Homo sapiens: one gene and its partners. The protein of the gene in region 1 purifies or fractionates together with the protein of each later gene. This does not show direct contact. Each region holds a gene or a part of one and is shown on either strand. Other genes may lie near its edges.

Region 1 (8,196 bases):
AGGCATCATGCATTGCTGGTCTATCTCTTGCCCATCTGCCTTCTGCCATGTGAAGACATGGAGTTCCTCCCCTTAGAAGATACAATCATCACCAGATAACTGAATATGCTGGTGCCTTGATCTTGGGCTTCCCAACCTCCAGAACTGAGAAAATAAATTTCTCTTCTTTATAAATTACCCAGTCTCAGGTATTTTGTTGTTAACAACACTAATGGACTGAGAAACTGATATGAGCTATAACATGGATGAACCTCAAAAACACTAAGCTAATACCAGCTGAATTAGCTAGCCTTGCTGCAAAAATGGTCTTAGTCTCATCTTTGGTGAAAATAAGATAGATTTTTTATTTGTTTGCTTTTGTTTTCTGAGACAGAGCTTCGCTACTGTTGCCCAGGCTGGAGTGCAATGGTGCGATCTCAGTTCACTGCAACTTCTGCCTCCCAGGTTCAAGTGGTTCTCCTGCCTCAGCCTCCCTAGTGTCTGGGCTTATAGGCATGCACCACCACGCCTGGCTAATTTTGTATTTTTAGTAGTGATGGGGTTTCACCATGTTGGTCAGGCTGGTCTCGATCCCCTGACCTTAGGTGATCCACCCGCCTTGGCCTCCCAAAGTGCTGGGATTACAGGCATGAGCTACCATGCCTAGCCTGTGTCTTTTTATTATGAAAGAAATACATGCTTATAAAATATCAAACAGTAAAAAATCTTTAAAAATAAAAGTGCCCTATTTACTCCATCCTTACTTCTAAATACTGAGATTAATTTCACAGTGAACAGAATGGTCACTTGCCATCATATCAATATAAATAGTCTAACGAATATCTTGTTTTCATGAAATTAACAATACTGAGCTATTAAATTGACTTCTGATATCAACTACCTGGACTTAGGCCAAATTTCACAGGTTGAGGGCACGCCCTTCATAAGACTGCCATTACTTCAGATACCAGCCACAAGTTCAGGGGTTCCCAGGGGTGTCCTCACTCCTGATCAACTGACTACAAATTTGGGGTTTCCCATGATCCCTTCAGGTTTTATGATTTATTAGAATGACTCACTGAACTCAGGATAGTGCCATGCTTATGATTGCAGTTTTATTATAGCAAAAGGATACAAATCAGAACCAGCCAGAGGGAGAGATGCATGGGGTAAGGACTGAGAGGGTCCTAAATGGAAATTTCCATTGACCCCATTGATATATCACTTTCTTAGAACTTTAATGTGTGATAATACACAGAGTATTGCCAATCAGGGGAGCTTCAGTGCCCAGAGTTTTTACTGGGGTCCATTATGTAGGCATGATTGATTGAACCATTGGTCACAAGTTGAACTCAGTCTCTAGCTTCCCTTCCCCACCTGGGCTGATATAACATGGCTCAGGGCTTCAATGCGCCAATCACATGACTGGTCTTTCCGGCATGGCCAGCCCCACCCTGAATCACCTTCTTAGCATAAACTATCTTAGAGCCCATCATGAGAGACCTCATTAGCATGAGATATACGGGCCCACCATGAATAACAAAGACAATCCTATTATTTGGAAAATTCCAAGGATTTAAAGGCTACCTCCAGGAAGTGGGAACAAAATCCAGGCAAATTCTTTATTACCTAGGTTAACTGCAACATGATGCAATATTCAGAGAGTGAACGAACAAGTGAAGGCACACTGTCAGCCTCTCAGAGTTGTGGAACTTCCAGTCTTCCCTCATAATAGGTACCATACCACACATGACATGCAATCAATACTAGTAAAGCTTATCTTCCTTAAAACTTTAAATAAATGTAAATAGATGTTTTAGTGTTTTTTTCTCTGTGCCTTAGCAGATCCTCTTTTATACTGCCTAAGGTACTTGTGCCCCATTTTGGAGATCACTGCCCAAGAGATCTCTTGGATAAATAATTTAAAGGGATAAGGGGATAGATTCTATTATTGTTTCCAAATGTCTGTGTTCTCCTTTGTGAAAGGATTAAACTTTGATACCCTTGACATGTCTTTCTGTAGACAAAGTATATTTCCCTGTCTCACTTGCAGGTTTGTTCAGGTAACTTGCATTGGCCAACAGAATCAGAGCAAATACAACGTACACCTTATCTGAATAAAGGATGCTACTACATGGTTCAGCTTACAAGGAGCTATTCTGTGATCTCAGCTTCCAGAATGAGAAAACACTTGGAGAGGGGCCAAGCAGAGTTGCAGTCAACTCCAAGGTGGCCCTAAGCACAAGTGTAATGTAAGTGAGAAATACATGTTTGTTGTTGTAAGCCACTTGGATTTTGGGGTTGTTGGTGATACGGTGTAATCCAGTTATAATGTGACTTATTCCAGGGAGAGAGCTATAGTTTTAGGAATATGGTTTGCTTTCTAATTATGAGCTTAGATTGTAAAGACTCTGAGAATCAATGATTGTTATTTCAGGGAATATGTGTGCATGTATACCTGTCTACGTGCATGTGCTGGTTAGGCCCAATCATTAATTTGTGGAGAACTTAAAATTCCCTTATCCTTCCCTTATGCTTTGTCATTCCCCTTTCCCTTTTCTTACTAAATAATTTGATTCTAAATAAAGCAGTAGCAAGATAGGTGTCTATGGTGAGGTGGCTGGGAGAGCAGCAGTGGCCTGGCACAGGGGGAGAGCTTTAGCAGGGTGAGAAGGGTGACTATGCAGGGTATTGGCTTGACAGTGGTTCTGGAGCCCAAGCAGAGTGAGAAGAACATCCCTTAGGGGTGGGAAAGTGTCCTGGCATGGGGAACCAGAGCGAGGAGATGTCCACTCCTGGCAATGGCCCAGTGCAGGGTGTCAGAGGATAAGATTGAGGAGGGTGTCCATAGTAGGGGTAGCCTGATGTGAGAGGTCAGAGTCTGAGAGGTAAAGAAGGCATCTATGTGGTGGGATAGTCAGGTGCAGTGAGTTGGAGTGCAAGCAGGGTGAGGAGGGCATCCATGTATGAGGTTACCTTCTATAGGGAGTCAGAGTCGCAAATGGCTGAGCAGAGTACTCTAGGGCCAGCCTGGTATGTATGTCAGCATGTGGGAGAGGTGAGGAGGGCACCCATGCCTAGTGTTGGCCCAGTTGGGGTTGGGACTCAGCACTTAAGCAGGATGAGGAGAGAGAGCATCCTTGCAGAGGGTAGACCTGGTGTGGTTTCAGAGACCAAGCATGATAAGGAGGGTGTCCATGTGGTGGGGTAGCCCAGTGAGGGAACTCAGATCCTAAGTAGGGTAAGATGGACATTATTGCTGGGGGATGGAGGACCTGCATGGAGTGTCAGAGCCCAAGCAGGATGAAGAAAGCTTCTATGCAGAGGGAGGACTTGGTGTGGGTTTCAGAAACTTAGCAGGATAAGGAGGTGGTCCATGTGGTAGGATAGCCCGGTGAGGAAATCAGACCCCTCCAGGGTGAGGAGGGCTTCCACCCATAGGGTGACCTTGTGTGGAGCATTAGAACCTAAGGGGGTCTAAGTGGTGACTAGGGGACCAGCATCAGGAATCAGAGTGCAAGCAGAGTGAGGAGGGCTTTCCTGCAGAGGAATGGCCTAGCACAGGGAGTCAGAGCCTTGGCAGGGTGAGGGGGATGTTTGTTGGGGGATGTTCATGGGGGTGGGGAGTGGGCTGGCCCTTTGCCGGCACTCTCAGAGTGAGGAGGGAGGGCATCCGCGCAGGGGATGGTGGCTTGGACTGGGGAGTCAGAGCCCAACTAGGAAGAGAGGGACATCTTAGCAGGTGGGAGATTGACGACATCCAGGAGATTGATCAAATAAGGAATAAGTGAAAGACAATGAAAGCAGGTTTCTTAGTGTCACAGAAAGGAGTTAGGAATGTGGGAAGGGAGAAAACTAGAATGAAACTTGTGGTGTTAGATTGGAATTAGAGGAATTAGTGTGAACTCATGGTGTTCAATATATTTAGATATAGAAATAATATAGAAATATAGACGTGTGTGTTTGTGTGTGTGTGCATGCATGTATGCATGTGTGTTATGCAGGAGAAGGAATCAGCTGGGGGAGATTAAAAGGAGGATCATTTGCGGAGAGTTGAGGGCAGAGAATCCAGGTGTGAGCTGGGAGCATGTCTATGGAGAGATTCCACATGAAGGATTTAATATTTGGAGTGTTTTCTTCTAGGCCTTTGGAAAAAGTCATATTTAGTACTTTGTTTAAGTTTATCCCCTTCTATACTGTGATTCTATATAATTCTCCTAACTGTTAAAAAATAGTCATATATATTGGAGGTGATGTGGCGATTAAAAGGTTAGGGAAGCATGGAATAAAGGCTGGCCTTCCCTCTCCTCCAACATCCAGTAAAGGGAGCTGCTTTCTGGAGATTCTAGCAAGATGAATGCAGACTTTTGATAGAGTTAGTTACCAACAAGGAAACACAGAGAGCATGGAGGAACAGCTTCAGAAGACATGGGGTTTAAACTTTGCCATCCCCACCATGCTACAGGAAACTAATTCGTGAAGGTGGGGAGGCTGATATGTGAGTTTTGTGTCAATGATACTCTTAGAATGTGGTACTAACAAGTTGCCTGATCAGTCAAAATTGATGAGATGAATGCAACATAAGTCTATGTTCAGGATGTTTGGTCAAAAGTAATTACATTTGTGTGTGGAAGCACAGAAATTGTATTTTTTACTGGTGAAAAACGCAGTTCTCCAGAAAGACTCTAAGTGCTTGGTTCTTCTTTTATTTTTCTTCCTCTTTCCGCAACCCTTTGAGTTCCCACTTTTATTGCATTTGCTTGCATTTGTTTCAAGGCTGTGATTCTCACTATACTGGTCCTGAGGAAAGGGCTTCTGTGAACTGCGGTTTTTAGTTTTTATTGTGGTTCTTAGTTCTCATGAGACCCCTCTTGAGGATATGTGCCTATCTGGTGCCTCTGCTCTCCACTAGTTGAGTGAAAGGAAGGAGGTAATTTACCACCATGTTTGGTTCCTGTTTATAAGATGTTTTAAGAAAGATCTGAAACAGATTTTCTGAAGAAAGCAGAAGCTCTCTTCCCATTATGACTTCGGAAATCACTTATGCTGAAGTGAGGTTCAAAAATGAATTCAAGTCCTCAGGCATCAACACAGCCTCTTCTGCAGGTAAAGATCATTTTCTAGGGGTCAGAGTGAATGACGAGGTGAAGGATGAGGAGAGGGTTTATGAATAAGGCATAGGTGTTTTCAGTTGCTGGTTGTCTGATTGAGTATGTCTGGGAAACACAAGAGTCCCAGAAGATTGAGTGGCCTGCAGATACGCATTACGGGGTGTACATTTGTATTGTGGAGAAGAAAAGATTTTGTGCCACTCTCTTCAGCCTCCACTCTGCTTACTGAAACAGAGGTGAGAGAAATCCACTCCAGTTCTGAGCTAAGGCGAGTGCTCTGATGCCCCTGTGTTTTCTGAGGCTGAGTGGGGCTGGGGTTAAGAGATTGAGTACAGCTTCTGAAACCATCAATCCAGATGCAGGGGGTCCTGATGAATTTGTGAGATTTGTTTTTTGATCAGTTAGAGGGAAAGAGTTTGGGTGGACAGTGGTGAGGGTATATTTGTTGGTAATGGATGGAAATGTAACAAAAGGCCTTTGCAAATGAAAGACTAGAAAGTCTACAAAGAAAGTCTCTTAAATCTCCAGGAAACTTTTTCTGAAATCAGAGAACCTATTGCGTGTTGCATCTCTGAGACAGACTCTGTTACGTTTGGGAGTAGATGCAAGGTGATTTGGGTGTCATGTGTGATATCTCAAGTATAGAGCAAAAGAGAGAAAAGAATGTATATAGAGTACAAGAAACTATGGGGGAAGGGGTCAGGACTATAGTTACGCTTTCTAAAATACCTCTGTGAAGGTGTGGAGAGCACTTAGGGAAATTTTTTCTCCTTAAAAACTTTATATAATTTCTTTATTACACAAGTATTAATGTTCATTGTAGAAAAAATTAACCAGAGGTACACAGATATTTGAATTATAATTACTCTTATCATCTAGAGAAAATCATAATTTGCAATTTAGTGAATATCCTTCCACATACAAATACATATAATGTGCATATGTATTTTACTAAAAATGTAATCATATTATATAATACTGAATTTTTTTCCCCCATCATTTGACAAAATATCATAACTCGAAGAAAGTGATTCCTAACCATGAGATGGTAACTAAAAAGACTGACTTTATTCTAAACATGTGATGAGGAATGATTATAAAGATTTATTTGCTATAGCATTATTTAAAGTTGGAAACCATTATTTAAATATATGATGAAATACTATGCAACCATAATAAGGAGTGTTAAAGAAGAAAATATAATGGTATGAAAAATGTTCATGATATAGTGTAAAGGAAAATAATAGGTCAGAAATCAGTATTTATGGTATGTCAATCGTGGGAAAATTTGCATATGTGTATATATACATTCAAAAAATTGCTAGAAAGATATATACCAAAATATTATGGTATATTATAAGTTATATGGCATAACAGTTATCCTCAATTGTAGGAATTCGTACTTTTATGTATTTTTTAAAGTTTCTACAGTGAATATTATTATATCCTTTCTATTCCTATTCTCATGTGATTTCAAATGTCATACCGTTAGTAACTGTGTGTCATCCAAGAAAAGAGAGAGAAAGAGGAGGAGGAAGAAGAGGAAGTAAAGACCAAACTTATTACTGATAAAACTAATTTGGCTTCTTCTTCAGCTTCCAAGGAGAGGACTGCCCCTCACAAAAGTAATACCGGATTCCCCAAGCTGCTTTGTGCCTCACTGTTGATATTTTTCCTGCTATTGGCAATCTCATTCTTTATTGCTTTTGTCAGTAAGTATGCCAACTGAACCAATAAGCAATATCTGCTGTCCATGAACAGAGGGTATCCTTTAAAAACTGACTTTTGAAAATGAGCTTATCCAGAAATCTGAAATGAAATTTTCTCTGGGGAGACATAATTCATGGGAATCCACTGTGAATTTTGCTCTTTATTTGGATTTAGTTACTGTCCTGTAAAAATAATGGAATCCCTTCTCATTTAGAGAAACTGAAGCATAAATGTGGGTGTATGTATTTGTGTTGTAGAGTGAAATCTATGGGGCATCATCTCTATACTAGACACTATGTAAGTGAGGACAAATCTATGTTTCCTTGGTAGCATTTATCAGGCCAGTCTGATTTGAATGCACAGACATTTATGTTTTGGGATGAGCAGGTAGACAACAAGGAGATGGGAAGAAATATTTCAGGAAGAGTTCTCCACTGGCTTTTACTCTGATTATTCCTGCCCTGCTCAAGACTGTGTGGGATCTAAAAGTCAATTTTGCAAATTAGGTGGATTGCTGCGTATCTTTGGCTTTCAGCATTTGTTGAGTTTTATTCCCCCTGGTTCTGTCACCCAGGCTGGAGTGCATTGGTGCAATCTTGGCTCACTGCAACCTCCACCTCCCAGGTTCAAGCGATTCTCCCACCCCAGCCTCCCAAGTAGCTGGGATTACAGGTGTGCATCACTATGCTCAGCTAATTTTTTTTTTTTTTTTTTTTGTATTTTTAGTAGAGACAGGGTTTTCTCATGTTTCCTGGCCTTGTCCTGAACTCCTGGGCTCAAGCAGTCTGCCTACCTCAGCCTCCTAACGTGCTGGGATTACAGGCATGAGTCACTACGCCTGGCTCAAAATTTTTAAAAGGCATAAAAAGCAGTATACATTTAGGTAGATTCTTTATTAATTTCTTTGGTCATTTCATAAGTATTGTCCATCTACTGTATGTCAGGCACTGTGCCAGACAGAGAGTCAAGACAGAGCCACAGCCCCTGGTCTCAAGAAATTTAGAGAATGATAAAATGAACCAGTGGTTATAACATTGTATGGTAAGTGTTGTACAGTTAAGAAGTATAATAAGTGCAAGAGGCTGAGGTAGGCTTTCCGGAGGAGGTGACATCTAGAGCTGTGTGTACCAAGAATGACCTAGAGATATGAGAGAGCATGGAATTTGGGGAAACGTAAGTATGCATGACTGGAACATATGGTGCTAAGTAAAGAACTAAGAAATGAAGTTGTAGGTGGCAGAAAGAAACAGGACTCAGATCATGAAGACTGCTGTATATCATGATAAAGAGTTTGGATTTTTTCCCTCCTAAAGGTTATTTTATCAATTATCTTTTGCTGGTTAATAAGCCAATCTAAAACTTAGTGGATTAAAACAGCAACTATTTATTTAGCTCA
Region 2 (8,117 bases), on another chromosome or scaffold:
CGACCAGAGACCCCTGATCTTACCACAGTGACCATTTTAAATAAAGCTGTTGGGCCACGCGTAGTGGCTGATGCCTATAATCCCAGCACTTTGGGAGGCCGAGGTGGGCAGATCACTTGAGGTCAGGAGTTCAAGACCAGCCTGGTCAACATGGTGAAACCCCATAAAAATACAAAAATTAGCCAGGTGCGGTGGCACATGCCTGTAATCCCAGCTACTCAAGAGACTGAGGCAGGAGAATCACTTGAGCCTGGGAAGCGGAGGTTGCAGTGAGCCAAGATTGTGACACTGCACTCCAGCATGGACAGCAGAGTGAGACCCTGTCTCAAAAATAAATAAATAAATAACGCAAGTTATTGGTTGTTATGAAAGTAACATCTGACCATTACAAGACATTTTAAAATATAGAAAAGTCTGAAGAGTAATGTCAGATCACCCCTAATGTTACCACCCAGTAGTGACTTGTTTGCGTTTTGGCCCACCCCCTTCCATCAGCCCTTTTCCCATGTATGGATGGTCCTGGGATATTCACTTTGACATTTTGTTTCTCCATTAACATTATCTCCCAGTGCGGTGGCTCACAACCTGTAATCCCAGTACTTTGGGAGGCCAAGACGGGTGGATCTCTTGAACCCAGGAGCTTGAAACCAGTCTGAGCAACATGGCAAAAACCCGTCTCTACAAAAAATACAAAAATTGTCCAGGCGTGGTGGCACACCTACTTGGGTGGTGGAGGTGGGAGGATTGCTTGAGCCCAGTAGTTCAAGGCTGCAGTGAGCCATCATGGTGCCACTACGCTCCAGTCTAGGCAACAAAACAAGACCTTTTCTCAAAAACAAAAAACAAAAAACACCATTATTGCTCAGTAGTTCCTAATATTCGTAAAAATATTTCCCTTCCACCCACCAGCTTTTGAGCTTTTCACTGCTTCTCAGATTTTACACTTAGGTTTGGTGGAGTGAGGCGAAAATAGAATTCATTGCTTGTCCTCATTCCTTGCAAGTGTGTCTGTAATGTCATGAATATGGAAGCTCACGTGGCTGATGGTTGACAGCTTCGACAGTTCTCACCTCTGTCTTAGTCATGCCCGGTTCACCAGTCCAGGCAGCAGGGTAACCAAGGCTGGGCTGGGAGCTGGAAGCAGCAATTGGTGAATGAGTGGGCACCCGCGGATAAAGAGAGAGCAGCCGGTGAAGCGAGGCTGGGCTCACCATGCACCTGGAGATCTCCTCCTGGGGTGCAGGCCCGCGTGTCTCTACTCCGAAGTGCAGGAAATAAACACTGGCACTAATGACCTTCCTGATGTGTGATTCAGCAGCTCCAGATTTGGCATTGCCTCTGGCTCAGCAGATCAGACACAAATCTTCAAGAATGTGTTCATTATGGGAGAACAAATTTTAAGAATGAAATTATCAGTCATTCAAATTGCGGTCTAGGCACTCTGGAGCACTCCAGACCTTAAAGCTGTCCTGCAATGAAGGATGGCCCTGTGCCCTGTAAGGAACAAAAGCAGGTTGTAGGACAGAACTGTGTTAGAGGTGCTTTTTTGCTTATTGTTTTGTTTCTGGCAAAAGGAAAATGAGTGGGAGTTTGTGTGTGAGCACACACAGGCTCCTGACTTTTACGAGGTTTTGGAAAGATGGATATCAAACTTTTAGCAGTGATTTCCCCAGACCTACAAAAGTGTTCAAATACAAGACTTTTTTTTTTTTTTTTACAGTGAGTAGGAATTACTTTTGTAATTAAAAATAAATCAAAGCATGAAAAAAATGTATGATTTTGGACCAGTCAATTCTTAGAATCTTGTATCGCAGGTTTGTACTTACAGGGCATAAATGGAAGGATATTTATTGCAGAATCACTTGTGAGAGCTAAACATAAAACAGACTGTTTATCAGTAGGGCTGGATGGGGCAGTTGGAGACGCCTGTGCTGTGGAGTGGCATGCAGCTGTGGGAGAACACACATATCTATCTGCTCCAACATGAGCTGCTGTCCAAGAGATTTTATTCTGCCAAAAAAACAGGAGCAGGAAAATATGGATGACACGATTCTATTTAAAATCAAGTTCATTTAGGCCGGGTGTGGTGGCTCACGCCTGTAATCCCAGCACTTTGGGAGGCCAAGGCAGGCGGATCACCTGAGGTCAGGAGTTCAAGACCAGGCTGGCCAACAGTGCAAAACCCTGTCTCTACTAAACATATAAAAATTAGCCAGGCATGGTGGCGGGCGCCTGTAATCCCAGCTAGTCGGGAGGCTAAGGCAGGAGAATCACTTGAACCCAGGGGGCAGAGGTTGCAGTGAACTGAGATCCCACCACTGCCCTCCAGCCTAGGAGATAGAGCGAGACTCCATCTCAAAAATAAATAAATAAACAAACACTCTGTCTCAAAAATAAATAAAATAAAGTTCATTCAACATTCGAATTAAGAAAACCATATAAAACTACTGTGTCTATATGTCAGAATAGTTGAATATCGGTTGTTCCATGTGGTTCAACCTAAAATATACATAAAGTTAGGAGAACACGAAACTTAACCATTTATAGCCTTTGGGAAAGAGGACTGTTAGAAATACTATCTTTTGAAAGGCCACATTTCTGTAATACTACAGTTTTTCCCAGTAAGCATGAGTCATGTTGGTAATGTTAAGTAGATAATAAAAGCAGGTGATGGTGTCAGTGTGAGCTCACACCTCTGGTCTTGGCGTGAGAGTGGCCTGGACTCTCCTGCTAACCTTAATAATGAAAAATGAACCAAACCCTAGTAAAAAAGAATGAATCGGCATCCCCAGTGCCCCGAAGATTTCTGGAACACCTGCCTCAGAACCCTTTCAGAGGGGAAGCTGCTAGGTGGGGCCAGAAGAAAGTTTTGTTTGTGGTTTTACTTGATTTCTTCTTATTTGGGGGAGCAGGGGTGGGGCAAGGCTGGGTTTTGGGACAAGGTGCTTTTTTCCTAAGGTGGCAGTAGCATGTTCACTTTTAGAACCGAGTTAGCTCTTTTAGGCCTCACACTGACCAGAAATCACTTGTTTGCTTCCAGATGAGAAGCGCTTTGCCCCCTGGCCATGGGGCCCTCTAAGTCTGATATAGTTATTTGCAAGGTTAAGGAGAAAACAGAACACCGTGGTTTTCTGGGGATGTGGGAAAGTGGCTCTCTAGAGAACTCACCTTCCACCAGGCTTAGGGTCAGCGTCCTGAAACGGCACCACTTTGTCTTACATTCAATTGCTTTGACGTGTGGGGTGCTTGGGGCCACGCAGCCTGGGAGGAGCCAGCCCTGCCTGGAGTCCTGCTCAGAATCTGAGGTCACCTCAGCCTGCCTGGTGTGCCCCCTGTACCTTTCTGTAAATCCTGTAGAGGGAGACAAAGAGTTACTTTTCCCTGTGATTTAAAAAAAAAAAAAATGCAGGGAAGGTAGCTGGTGGCCTTGAATCTTGGTACCCAGTGCTTTCCAAGAATTCTTGTGCCCCTGTTGCATATTGTATTGGGTCAAGAGCATGGACTACTGGTGCTCTTTTAAATCTAGTGCATGTTTAATTATTACCCTAAAAGAATCTGTCATCATTAGATAAAAATGTGAAGAAAACATTAAAATGTTGAATGAGGAAAAGGATCGTGTCTAATCCCAGTACCAAGTTTCACTCACCTTGGACAAGGGTCTCCAGTGAATTTCATGAACTTGTCAGTAGCTGGGGAGACCTTGATAAAAGTGAAATTGGGCAGAGCACCTATCTCCGATGGTATTCAAACATCAGGAACAGAAAGCGGATGTGGTCGTTATTAAGATCATTAGAATTCATTTACTTTTTATACTGCATATTCCCGCTTGTTTCCAGGTTGGGCAGTTTTGGGTTTTGTTTCCCCAGGATGCAGCCGGGTGTGCATTTTTTGGTGCATCATGTTTTTTAAGGTGTGGTGTGCCCTTTTACCCCATTGTGTAACTTAGGTGATGACACACGTGCACGTGAAGATTTTGGCTGGAGGTGGAGAGTGGGTTGGTAGAGAACTTAGAGTAGAAAAGGGATGTTTTCTGAAAAATCACGAAAGCCTTATTGTTCACAGGTCCCCGAGACAGCAGCAAGATGGGGATTCTGTACATCTTGGTCCCCAGCATCGCAATTCCACTGGTCATCGCTTGCCTTTTCTTCTTGGTTTGCATGTGCCGGAATAAGCAGAAGGCATCTGCGTCCACACCGCAGCGGCGACAGCTGATGGCCTCGCCCAGCCAAGACATGGAAATGCCCCTCATTAACCAGCACAAACAGGTCTCCATGCCTTACATTTTCTACCCGGGTGGCTCTTCCAGGTTTAATCCTCAGGGGTTGTTTCCCCCAACATTAAATGTCTTAATTTACTTGATACATAGCACATAATTATTTTAAACTCCGCTTCATTTTGCCATTTTTTTTTTCTGTAAACTAGATCAGGACATGTGTGCTTTAGAAAATAAATGGCAGGCGTGTTGGGAATTCACTGCCCCAGAGTCCATGGGCCTCCTTCTGCCTGGACCATGCTGCCCCTGTGGGCCCCAGCGAGTGTCCTCACTGTCCAGGTGCCTCAGCTCTGCCCAGAAGACACACAAGAACAACAGGGCTCCAATGCTCCCCATAATTTTTCTTGACACTTTTGGGTTGGGTTGGTTTTGCTTTGTTTTGTTTACAGGGAAGGATAGGAGAATAGCTCTTAAATGGGAGTAGGTGGACAGGCTACCACTAAAAGGCCACCCCTCATCCCAGAGCAGCCTTAGATGGGGGTGGGGCACTGAAATACAACAGATGAGAACATGTGCTGCAGCCTCTCCAGGTTGTGTTGTAAAAGGGCATTTACACTCATTGCAAGCCGTAGGTAACATCATTCTCAGCCAGCTTTGCAGGGGCTCTTCAAGGTGGCCAGGAGGGAGCTGATGCACTTGGCTCTTCAGTCCCAGAGTCGGTGAGAGTTTGCTATGGGCAGGGGCTGGCCAGCGAGGAGGGCACAGAGCCCCGGGGCTTGCACGGAGGCCCAGGAACCTCTGGGGAGGATGAGGGCTGGCCACACGGGAGGAGCTGGTGTCATAGAGGCCGAGAGAGATGCAGGGTTCTCAGGGCTCCTATCACCTGTGGGGTACTCTTTCCAGGAACATGTTTAACAGAGACCCTAGTCAAGAGGCCCATGGACAGGCCCATTGAGGGAACCTCTGTAGAACAACTGGCTTGGACTCTTATAAGTGACAAAATTGCCAAGACAAAAATGTCGTGGGAAAGCCTCTGTGGGGTCCATGAGAAAAAGACATCACATCTCACGTGATGTGTCGGCACACATGGGGGTTGGAGGGAACCTGGCAGGGTATGTCCGGGGCAGCCCCAGGGCAGCTGGTGCCTGGGCCTGGCTGTAGGGTGTGTGTGTGTGTCCACACATGCACAAGTGGGAAGGAAGTCAGTGTGTCCCAGCTGGATTTTGGAGGGACCTTATTTGTAGCCTGGTTGGGATCTGTGGAAGATTGCAGATGGGAAGCAACCTTGGCATCAGAGCCGTATTTAAGGTTAACTAGAGAGCTGTGGGTGGGCAGGCCAAGGCTGGGTGGGCAAAACCAGCGGGTCTTCTGCAAGGCCCCCCTAGTCGTGGCCGCACAGGGACTCCACTCCTCCCGGCTGCTCTGCAGCTTCCTCCAGGGCTGCGGTGACAGTGATGTTTCACGTGGGGCTTTTCTTCTTGACAGGCCAAACTCAAAGAGATCAGCCTGTCTGCGGTGAGGTTCATGGAGGAGCTGGGAGAGGACCGGTTTGGGAAAGTCTACAAAGGTCACCTGTTCGGCCCTGCCCCGGGGGAGCAGACCCAGGCTGTGGCCATCAAAACGCTGAAGGACAAAGCGGAGGGGCCCCTGCGGGAGGAGTTCCGGCATGAGGCTATGCTGCGAGCACGGCTGCAACACCCCAACGTCGTCTGCCTGCTGGGCGTGGTGACCAAGGACCAGCCCCTGAGCATGATCTTCAGCTACTGTTCGCACGGCGACCTCCACGAATTCCTGGTCATGCGCTCGCCGCACTCGGACGTGGGCAGCACCGATGATGACCGCACGGTGAAGTCCGCCCTGGAGCCCCCCGACTTCGTGCACCTTGTGGCACAGATCGCGGCGGGGATGGAGTACCTATCCAGCCACCACGTGGTTCACAAGGACCTGGCCACCCGCAATGTGCTAGTGTACGACAAGCTGAACGTGAAGATCTCAGACTTGGGCCTCTTCCGAGAGGTGTATGCCGCCGATTACTACAAGCTGCTGGGGAACTCGCTGCTGCCTATCCGCTGGATGGCCCCAGAGGCCATCATGTACGGCAAGTTCTCCATCGACTCAGACATCTGGTCCTACGGTGTGGTCCTGTGGGAGGTCTTCAGCTACGGCCTGCAGCCCTACTGCGGGTACTCCAACCAGGATGTGGTGGAGATGATCCGGAACCGGCAGGTGCTGCCTTGCCCCGATGACTGTCCCGCCTGGGTGTATGCCCTCATGATCGAGTGCTGGAACGAGTTCCCCAGCCGGCGGCCCCGCTTCAAGGACATCCACAGCCGGCTCCGAGCCTGGGGCAACCTTTCCAACTACAACAGCTCGGCGCAGACCTCGGGGGCCAGCAACACCACGCAGACCAGCTCCCTGAGCACCAGCCCAGTGAGCAATGTGAGCAACGCCCGCTACGTGGGGCCCAAGCAGAAGGCCCCGCCCTTCCCACAGCCCCAGTTCATCCCCATGAAGGGCCAGATCAGACCCATGGTGCCCCCGCCGCAGCTCTACGTCCCCGTCAACGGCTACCAGCCGGTGCCGGCCTATGGGGCCTACCTGCCCAACTTCTACCCGGTGCAGATCCCAATGCAGATGGCCCCGCAGCAGGTGCCTCCTCAGATGGTCCCCAAGCCCAGCTCACACCACAGTGGCAGTGGCTCCACCAGCACAGGCTACGTCACCACGGCCCCCTCCAACACATCCATGGCAGACAGGGCAGCCCTGCTCTCAGAGGGCGCTGATGACACACAGAACGCCCCAGAAGATGGGGCCCAGAGCACCGTGCAGGAAGCAGAGGAGGAGGAGGAAGGCTCTGTCCCAGAGACTGAGCTGCTGGGGGACTGTGACACTCTGCAGGTGGACGAGGCCCAAGTCCAGCTGGAAGCTTGAGTGGCACCAGGGCCCGGGGTTCGGGGATAGAAGCCCCGCCGAGACCCCACAGGGACCTCAGTCACCTTTGAGAAGACACCATACTCAGCAATCACAAGAGCCCGCCGGCCAGTGGGCTTGTTTGCAGACTGGGTGAGGTGGAGCCCTGCTCCTCTCTGTCCTCTGACACAGAGAGCTGCCCTGCCTAGGAGCACCCAAGCCAGGCAGGGGGTCTGGCAGCACGGCGTCCTGGGGAGCAGGACACATGGTCATCCCCAGGGCTGTATACATTGATTCTGGTGGTAGACTGGTAGTGAGCAGCAAATGCCTTTCAAGAAAATAGGTGGCAGCTTCACTCCATGTCATATATGGAGTGAATATTTCAAAACGTTGGGAATAAGGGCCTGCAAAAGGCAGCGAGGAGGCACCTCGGGTCTTGAGGTTCCTGACAACCGATCTGGTCTGTTGGTTTGAGGATGAAGGGGCTCCATTTCTGCTGCCTCCCTGCTGAGAATATTCTCCCTTTAGCAGCCAAAGATTCGCTGGAACGGAGGCTGCCCTCTGCTGCCTGTTGGGGTCGGAAGACAAGGGGCTTCTGAAATGGGAGTTCCTGAGATACAACAAAATGTGTGCCTTCAAAGAAACTGACAGCTTTGTATTTGGTGAAATGGTTTTAATTATACTCCATGTGTATTTTGCCCACTTTTTTTGGGAATTCAAGGGAAAGTGTTTCTTGGGTTTGGAATGTTCAGAGGAAGCAGTATTGTACAGAACACGGTATTGTTATTTTTGTTAAGAATCATGTACAGAGCTTAAATGTAATTTATATGTTTTTAATATGCCATTTTCATTGAAGTATTTTGGTCTTAAGATGACTTTAGTAATTTAACTGTTTATGTTACCCACGTTGGGATCCAGTTGGTCTTGGTTTGCTTCTCTCTGTACCACGTGCACATGAGGTCCATTCATTTTACAGCCCCTGTTACACACAGAC
Region 3 (7,019 bases), on another chromosome or scaffold:
ATTAATGAATGAAAAATCTCCCCAACTCTTTCACTTTGGAAAAGAGTTGGGCATTATTTTGTATAGCTAGAGATATTCATATTCTAGACTTCGTCTTAGGTATCTTAGAGAAACTCATACATGTGTACACTTATAAAAGTGTTCATAATAACGCTGTTCTTAATAGCCCCAAACTGGAAACAACCCATTGGCATTAGAATTAAAGTATGAGGCCAGGCGTGGTGGCTCACGCCTGTAATCCCAGCACTTTGGGAGGCTGAGGCAGGCTGATCACTTGAGGTCAGGAATTCAAGACCAGCCTGACCAATGTGGTGAAACCCCATCTCTACTAAAAATACAAAAATTAGCTGGGTGTCATGGTGGGCACCTGTAATCCCAGCTGCTTGGGAGGCTGAGGCACGAGAGTCACTGGAACTTGGGAGGCAGAGGTTGCAGTGAGCTGAGGTCATGCCACTGTACTCCAGCCTGGGTGACAGAGCAATACCCTGTCTCAAAAAAAAAAAAAAAAAAAAAAAAAAGAATTAAAATATGAGATGTTTATAATGAAAAACAGACCATGTCCAGTGATTTAAAAAAATTAACCTGGCTGGCCCAGTGGCTCACACCTGTGATCCCAGCAGTTTGGGAGGCAGAGATGGAAGGATTGCTTGATCCCAGGAGTTTGAGACCAGCCTGAGCAACATAAGGAGACCCCCGTCTCTACAAAAAAATACAAAAATAAAAAAGGCTGGGATTGATGGTACACATTTTTGTCCCAGCTACACAGGAGGCTGAGTTGGGAGGATCACTTGAGTCCAGGAGGGCGAGGCTGCAGTGAACCGTGATCACCATCACTGTACTCCAGCCTGGGTGACAGAGTGAGACCCTATCTCAAAAAATAAAGGCCGGGCACAGTGGCTCATGTCTGTAATCCCAGCACTTGGGAGGCTGAGGAGGGTGGATCATGAGGACGAGATCGAGACCATCCTGGCCAACATGATGAAACCCCATCTCTACTGAAAATACAAAAATTAGCTAGGCGTGGTAGTGCGCGCCTGTAATCCCAGCTACTTGGGAGGCTGAGGCAGGAGAATCACTTGAACCCAGCGGGGTGGAGTTTGCAGTGAGCCGAGATCGCACCACTGCCCTCCAGCGTGGGTGACAAGAGCGAGACTTGGTCTCAAAACAAGCAAACAAACAAAAGAATCTTACAATGTTGTGAAAAAAAAAAAAAATCCAGGCACAAAAGAGTATACATTTTGTGTGCTTCCAGTTTTAATCTGGCTCTGAAACAGGCAAAATGGAATTATATTATCTAGGAACATGTAAGTGGTAAACTACAAAGAACAAGAAAGAAATTATCACAAAAGTCAGGGTAGTGGTTACTCCTTGAGGGGAGGGAGAACATATGGTTGGGAAGGAACTCTTGAGTGCTAGCATTGTTGGATTGTGGTTTTTTTTTTTTTTTCCCACAAAAAAATGTAAGCCAGAAGTTTTCTTACCTTTCTACCTTCTAGCCTCCAGTTCCGTTCCTTGGAGGCAGCCAGTCATATGGGTCTATATGCCTTAACACATACACACACGTGCGTGCACACACACAGACACACACGCTATATATATATATATATATATATATATATATATATATATTTTTTTTTTTCTTTTTTTTTTTTTTTTTTTAATAGAGTCTCACTATGTTGCCCAGACTGGTCACAAACTCCTGAGGTTAAGCAGTCCTCCTGCCTCAGCCTCCCAAAGTGCTGGGATTACAGGCATGAGTCACCATGCCCAGCATACACACACATATTTTTAACACAACTAGTAGAAAAGATAGACTTTTGAAGTAAAATGAAAAAGAAACAACCCATAAAGATATCATCTAAGATCAGGCATGGTGCCACTCACCTGAAATCCCAGTGCTTTGGGAAGCTAAGGCAGGAGGATCGCTTGAGGTTAGATATTTGAGACCAGCCTGGGCAACGTAGCTAGACACCGTCTCTACCAAAGAAATATATATATATATTTTTTGAGATGGAGTTTTGCTCTTATTGCCCAGGCTGGAGTGCAATGGCGCAATCTCGGCTCACCACAACCTCCGCCTGCTGGGTTCAAGCGATTCTTCTGCCTCAGCCTCCCCAGTAGCTGGGATTATAGGCATGTGCCACCACACCCAGCTAATTTTTGTATTTTTAGTAGTGCTGGGTTTATCCACGTTGATCAGGCTGGTCTCGAACTCCCAATCTCAGGTGATCCACCTGCCTTGGTAAAGAATTTTTTTTTTTAATTAAAAAGTAAGCTGGGGGCTGGGCGCAGTGGCTCATGCCTGTAATCCCAGCACTTTGGAAGGCCGAGGCGGGCGGATCACAAGGTCAGGAGATCGAGACCATCCTGGCTAACATGGTGAAACCTCGTCTCTACTAAAAATACAAAAAAATTAGCTGGGCGTAGTGGCAGGCACCTGTAATCCCAGCTACTCGGGAGGCTGAGTCAGGAGAATGGCGTGAACCCGGGAGGCAGAGCTTGAAGTGAGCCGAGATCATGCCACTGCACTCCAGCCTGGGCAACAGAGCAAGACTCCGTCTCAAAAGAAAAAAAAAAAAAGTAAGCTGGGCATGGTGATGCACAGCTATAGTCCTAGCTACTTGGAAGGCTGAGGTGGGAGGATTGCTTGAGCCCAGGAGTTTAGAGGCTGCAGTGAGCTGTGATCATGTCACTGCACTCTAGCCTGGGTGACAGAGCAAGACCCTGTCACTTGAAAATAAAAAATATCAGCTATGATTTCTGCCCACTTATTTTTCACTGGACAAGTGGTTACTATGTATGTGCCCTTAGGCCCATGTGCCACTCACTTAATCTGGCACTTGCTGTGTGTCAGCATGGTGTCAGGCACTTTAGTTTGCTTAGTTCAGTCTTCTAACAACCCAGGAAGGCAGGTACTGTTATTATCCCCATTTTACAGAGAAGGAAGCTGAGGCTGTTGTGCTTCTGGGCTTCCTACGCAGCACACCAATAGTGTTGAAACGCTACCAAGGGTTGTGTTGAGGGTGGTCATCTTGATGCCTATTCCTGGGCTGCTCTAACAGGCCCCTTTATCTCTCCAGGTGGCCCTATGCACCCAGGTAGCCCTGGGCATGGAGCACCTGTCCAACAACCGCTTTGTGCATAAGGACTTGGCTGCGCGTAACTGCCTGGTCAGTGCCCAGAGACAAGTGAAGGTGTCTGCCCTGGGCCTCAGCAAGGATGTGTACAACAGGTAGAAGGGCATGCGTGGGGTGGGGGCTCCCCATTTTTTCCCAGAGGGTGAGGGGCAGAGGACAGATAGTTTGGGGGGTGTGGGAAAGGGTTTAGTGCCTGCTTAGTCCAAAGCTGGAGGGCCTGGGATAGGGAAGAGCTTTCTCATCCTTTTTCCAAGGGTGCAGCAGGCTTCCCACCCAGTGCACACCCTTGGTGGTTGTAAAATGTCTCTAGCGATTAAATAAATAAATAAACCTTTTTTAAAAAATAGGCAAATTTGATAAGGATTTATATATAATCTATTTATATGGCTCTCTCTGTAACTTCCTGAATTCAGTCATTATTATTTTGAAGTCTGAGACTTATGCCTCAGCACCCATGCCAGAGCTTGCTCTAGACAGCCTACGAGGGCTCTGCAGCGCTGCCGGGAACATCACCCTGAGTCCCTCTGGTTCCAGGTCACCCCCATTTGTCTGACTATAGCTGTAGTGAGGATTGGTTTATCACTAATAAAGCTCTTTCCATTTAACAGTTCTTAGTTTTTACATTTTTACAACCAATATAGAAAGTATGTATGACTATTAACTTTTCTGTTAACATTTAGGCAAAGTTTGATTCTTAATGGAAATTTTTTAACCATCAAACCTCTCGTGTGGTTACCTCCAGATTTTGTCTAGTGTACTCCCATGCTCAGCACGCATGTGACCAATTTCTTGATGTCTGTATGTAGAAAGGCTGGGCCCCCGGCTTGGGGATGCGTTCCAGATGGGGAGATGAGGGTGCAGCGCCAGGCCACGCTCCCACCCCACCTCACCCCTGGGTTGCTTCTCTCCTGCAGTGAGTACTACCACTTCCGCCAGGCCTGGGTGCCGCTGCGCTGGATGTCCCCCGAGGCCATCCTGGAGGGTGACTTCTCTACCAAGTCTGATGTCTGGGCCTTCGGTGTGCTGATGTGGGAAGTGTTTACACATGGAGAGATGCCCCATGGTGGGCAGGCAGATGATGAAGTACTGGCAGGTAGGCAGCCTTGCTGCTAGGGGATGATTCCAGATGGGCCCCAGATGGGGCCTACTCAGGGCCCCAGGGCTGGTTCAGCCTACCTCCCTCTCAGGGCTGCTACTGAGCAGGCACACAGATACAACCACTCTGGTTGTTAAAATACTGCAATACTTTGTTTTTCTTTTGAGACGGAGTGTCGCCCTGTCGCCCAGACTGGAGTGCAGTGGCCCGATCTCCGTTCACTGCAACTTCTGCCTCCTGGGTTCAAGCGATTCTCCTGCCTTAGACTCCCTAGTAGCTGGGATTACAGGCACGCACCTCCACTCCCTGGCTAATTTTTGTATTTTTAGTAGAGATGGGGGGGCTTCACCATGTTGGTCAGGCTGGTCTCAAACTCCTGACCTTGTGATCCACCCGCCTCGGCCTCCCAAAGTGCTGGGATTGCAGGCGTGAGCCACCACACCTGGCCGAAAATACTGCAATACTTCTATATTGGTTGGTAAATAGCCTTTGCCCCCAGTGCCCACTCCAGCCACTCTGACGCCTGTCCGCCAGCCCACTTCAGCTCCTATGCATGGACCCCGTCCTACCAGCCAGAGTGAGTGGGGCCAGGGGAGTCATCTTTTTCCGTTGCGGGTACCCACCTGCCGCTGGCCAGCATTGCCCCAGAGGCATCCTTGGGTGGCTGCTTGTATAAACTGCAAGGTCCACAAAGTGTTGAACAAGTTGTTGAATGTTTTGGCCAACACTGCACCTGCTGTCTTCCCTACAGATTTGCAGGCTGGGAAGGCTAGACTTCCTCAGCCCGAGGGCTGCCCTTCCAAACTCTATCGGCTGATGCAGCGCTGCTGGGCCCTCAGCCCCAAGGACCGGCCCTCCTTCAGTGAGATTGCCAGCGCCCTGGGAGACAGCACCGTGGACAGCAAGCCGTGAGGAGGGAGCCCGCTCAGGATGGCCTGGGCAGGGGAGGACATCTCTAGAGGGAAGCTCACAGCATGATGGGCAAGATCCCTGTCCTCCTGGGCCCTGAGGCCCCTGCCCTAGTGCAACAGGCATTGCTGAGGTCTGAGCAGGGCCTGGCCTTTCCTCCTCTTCCTCACCCTCATCCTTTGGGAGGCTGACTTGGACCCAAACTGGGCGACTAGGGCTTTGAGCTGGGCAGTTTTCCCTGCCACCTCTTCCTCTATCAGGGACAGTGTGGGTGCCACAGGTAACCCCAATTTCTGGCCTTCAACTTCTCCCCTTGACCGGGTCCAACTCTGCCACTCATCTGCCAACTTTGCCTGGGGAGGGCTAGGCTTGGGATGAGCTGGGTTTGTGGGGAGTTCCTTAATATTCTCAAGTTCTGGGCACACAGGGTTAATGAGTCTCTTGGCCCACTGGTCCCACTTGGGGGTCTAGACCAGGATTATAGAGGACACAGCAAGTGAGTCCTCCCCACTCTGGGCTTGTGCACACTGACCCAGACCCACGTCTTCCCCACCCTTCTCTCCTTTCCTCATCCTAAGTGCCTGGCAGATGAAGGAGTTTTCAGGAGCTTTTGACACTATATAAACCGCCCTTTTTGTATGCACCACGGGCGGCTTTTATATGTAATTGCAGCGTGGGGTGGGTGGGCATGGGAGGTAGGGGTGGGCCCTGGAGATGAGGAGGGTGGGCCATCCTTACCCCACACTTTTATTGTTGTCGTTTTTTGTTTGTTTTGTTTTTTTGTTTTTGTTTTTGTTTTTACACTCGCTGCTCTCAATAAATAAGCCTTTTTTACAACCTGTTTCTGAGATTCATTCCCTGCTCTTGCTCGTGGAAGATGTTCCTTTTTCCCCCGCTGATGAGAAGGGGCCGTGTGCAGGCCGGGTGCAGTGGCTCATGCCTGTAATCCCAGCACTTTGGGAGGCTGAGGCCAGTGGATCACCTGAGGTCAGGAGTTCGAGACCAGCCTGGCCAAAAAGGTGAAACCCCTGTCTCTACTGAAAATATAAAAATTAGCTGGACATGGTGGCAGGCGCCTGTAATCCCAGCTACTTGGGAGGCTGAGGCAGGAGAATCGCTTGAACCCAGGAGATGTAGGTTGCAGTGAACCGAGATCACACCACTGCACTCCAGCCTGGGTGACAGCGAGACTCTGTCTAAAAAAAAACAAAAAAAAAAAGAGAAAAATGAAAGGGCCATGTGCCTTCATGGAGTCTGGTGGGGCTTGGACAGGATGAACCGGTGGATATTGGTTCTTCTCTCCAGTTTGCAGGGCAGGTGAGCATGCAGGCATGAAGAAGGCAAGATCACCTGTTGTCTGTGCAACCCTGTGCTGTCCTCTGACTGTCACCTAGACGGGCCTAATCCTTGTGCTCAGATGGGGAGGGTAGAAGCGTGAAGGGGAGCAAGTTAGAGTAGGATTGGAGAAGGAGTTAGTGACAGACTCAGGTCTCTGAGTCCTTTCAAGACCCTAGGAGGGAAGTGAAGTAGGTAGAACCAAGCAGAGAGACGGTGCTTAATGCCTGGATCTTGTGTCCTCACCTATCCTCTGCCTCATTCCAGTAACTTCAGCCTGGTTCACCATCCAAAAGAAACGAGTCCTGAACTCCAAAACTGCTCTAGTTCCTTTACTCCTCACCAAACTTCTGAATAATAAAAATAACAGCAGGCTGGACATGGTGGTTCACACCTGTAATCCTAATACTTTGGGAGACTGAGGCAGGAAGATCACTTGGGACCAGGAGTTTGAGACCAGCCTGGCCAACATAGTGAGACCCTGTCTCTACAAAAAATTTAAAAATTAGCCAGGTGTGGCGACATGCACTTGTAGTCCTAAC

The links.
Region 2: the proteins of CLEC4A (region 1) and ROR2 purify together in Homo sapiens (co-immunoprecipitation; 2 studies listed by BioGRID and IntAct, with this or other methods). This does not show direct contact.
Region 3: the proteins of CLEC4A (region 1) and PTK7 purify together in Homo sapiens (co-immunoprecipitation; 2 studies listed by BioGRID and IntAct, with this or other methods). This does not show direct contact.

What each region holds. Positions count from the first base shown.
Region 1 is NC_000012.12:8,118,876-8,127,071, forward strand, and holds the start of CLEC4A (C-type lectin domain family 4 member A), read left to right. Parts: upstream 1-4,741; 5' UTR 4,742-5,003; coding exon 5,004-5,085; intron 5,086-6,685; coding exon 6,686-6,802; intron 6,803-7,601; exon of another isoform or gene 7,602-8,196. UniProt on the Homo sapiens protein: C-type lectin receptor that binds carbohydrates mannose and fucose but also weakly interacts with N-acetylglucosamine (GlcNAc) in a Ca(2+)-dependent manner. Involved in regulating immune reactivity.
Region 2 is NC_000009.12:91,722,689-91,730,805, reverse strand, and holds part of ROR2 (tyrosine-protein kinase transmembrane receptor ROR2 isoform 1 precursor), read left to right. Parts: intron 1-4,062; coding exon 4,063-4,265; exon of another isoform or gene 4,266-4,359; intron 4,360-5,698; coding exon 5,699-7,144; 3' UTR 7,145-8,117. UniProt on the Homo sapiens protein: Tyrosine-protein kinase receptor which may be involved in the early formation of the chondrocytes. It seems to be required for cartilage and growth plate development. Phosphorylates YWHAB, leading to induction of osteogenesis and bone formation.
Region 3 is NC_000006.12:43,155,737-43,162,755, forward strand, and holds the end of PTK7 (inactive tyrosine-protein kinase 7 isoform a precursor), read left to right. Parts: intron 1-3,080; coding exon 3,081-3,232; intron 3,233-4,051; coding exon 4,052-4,230; intron 4,231-4,984; coding exon 4,985-5,145; 3' UTR 5,146-5,979; downstream 5,980-7,019. UniProt on the Homo sapiens protein: Inactive tyrosine kinase involved in Wnt signaling pathway. Component of both the non-canonical (also known as the Wnt/planar cell polarity signaling) and the canonical Wnt signaling pathway.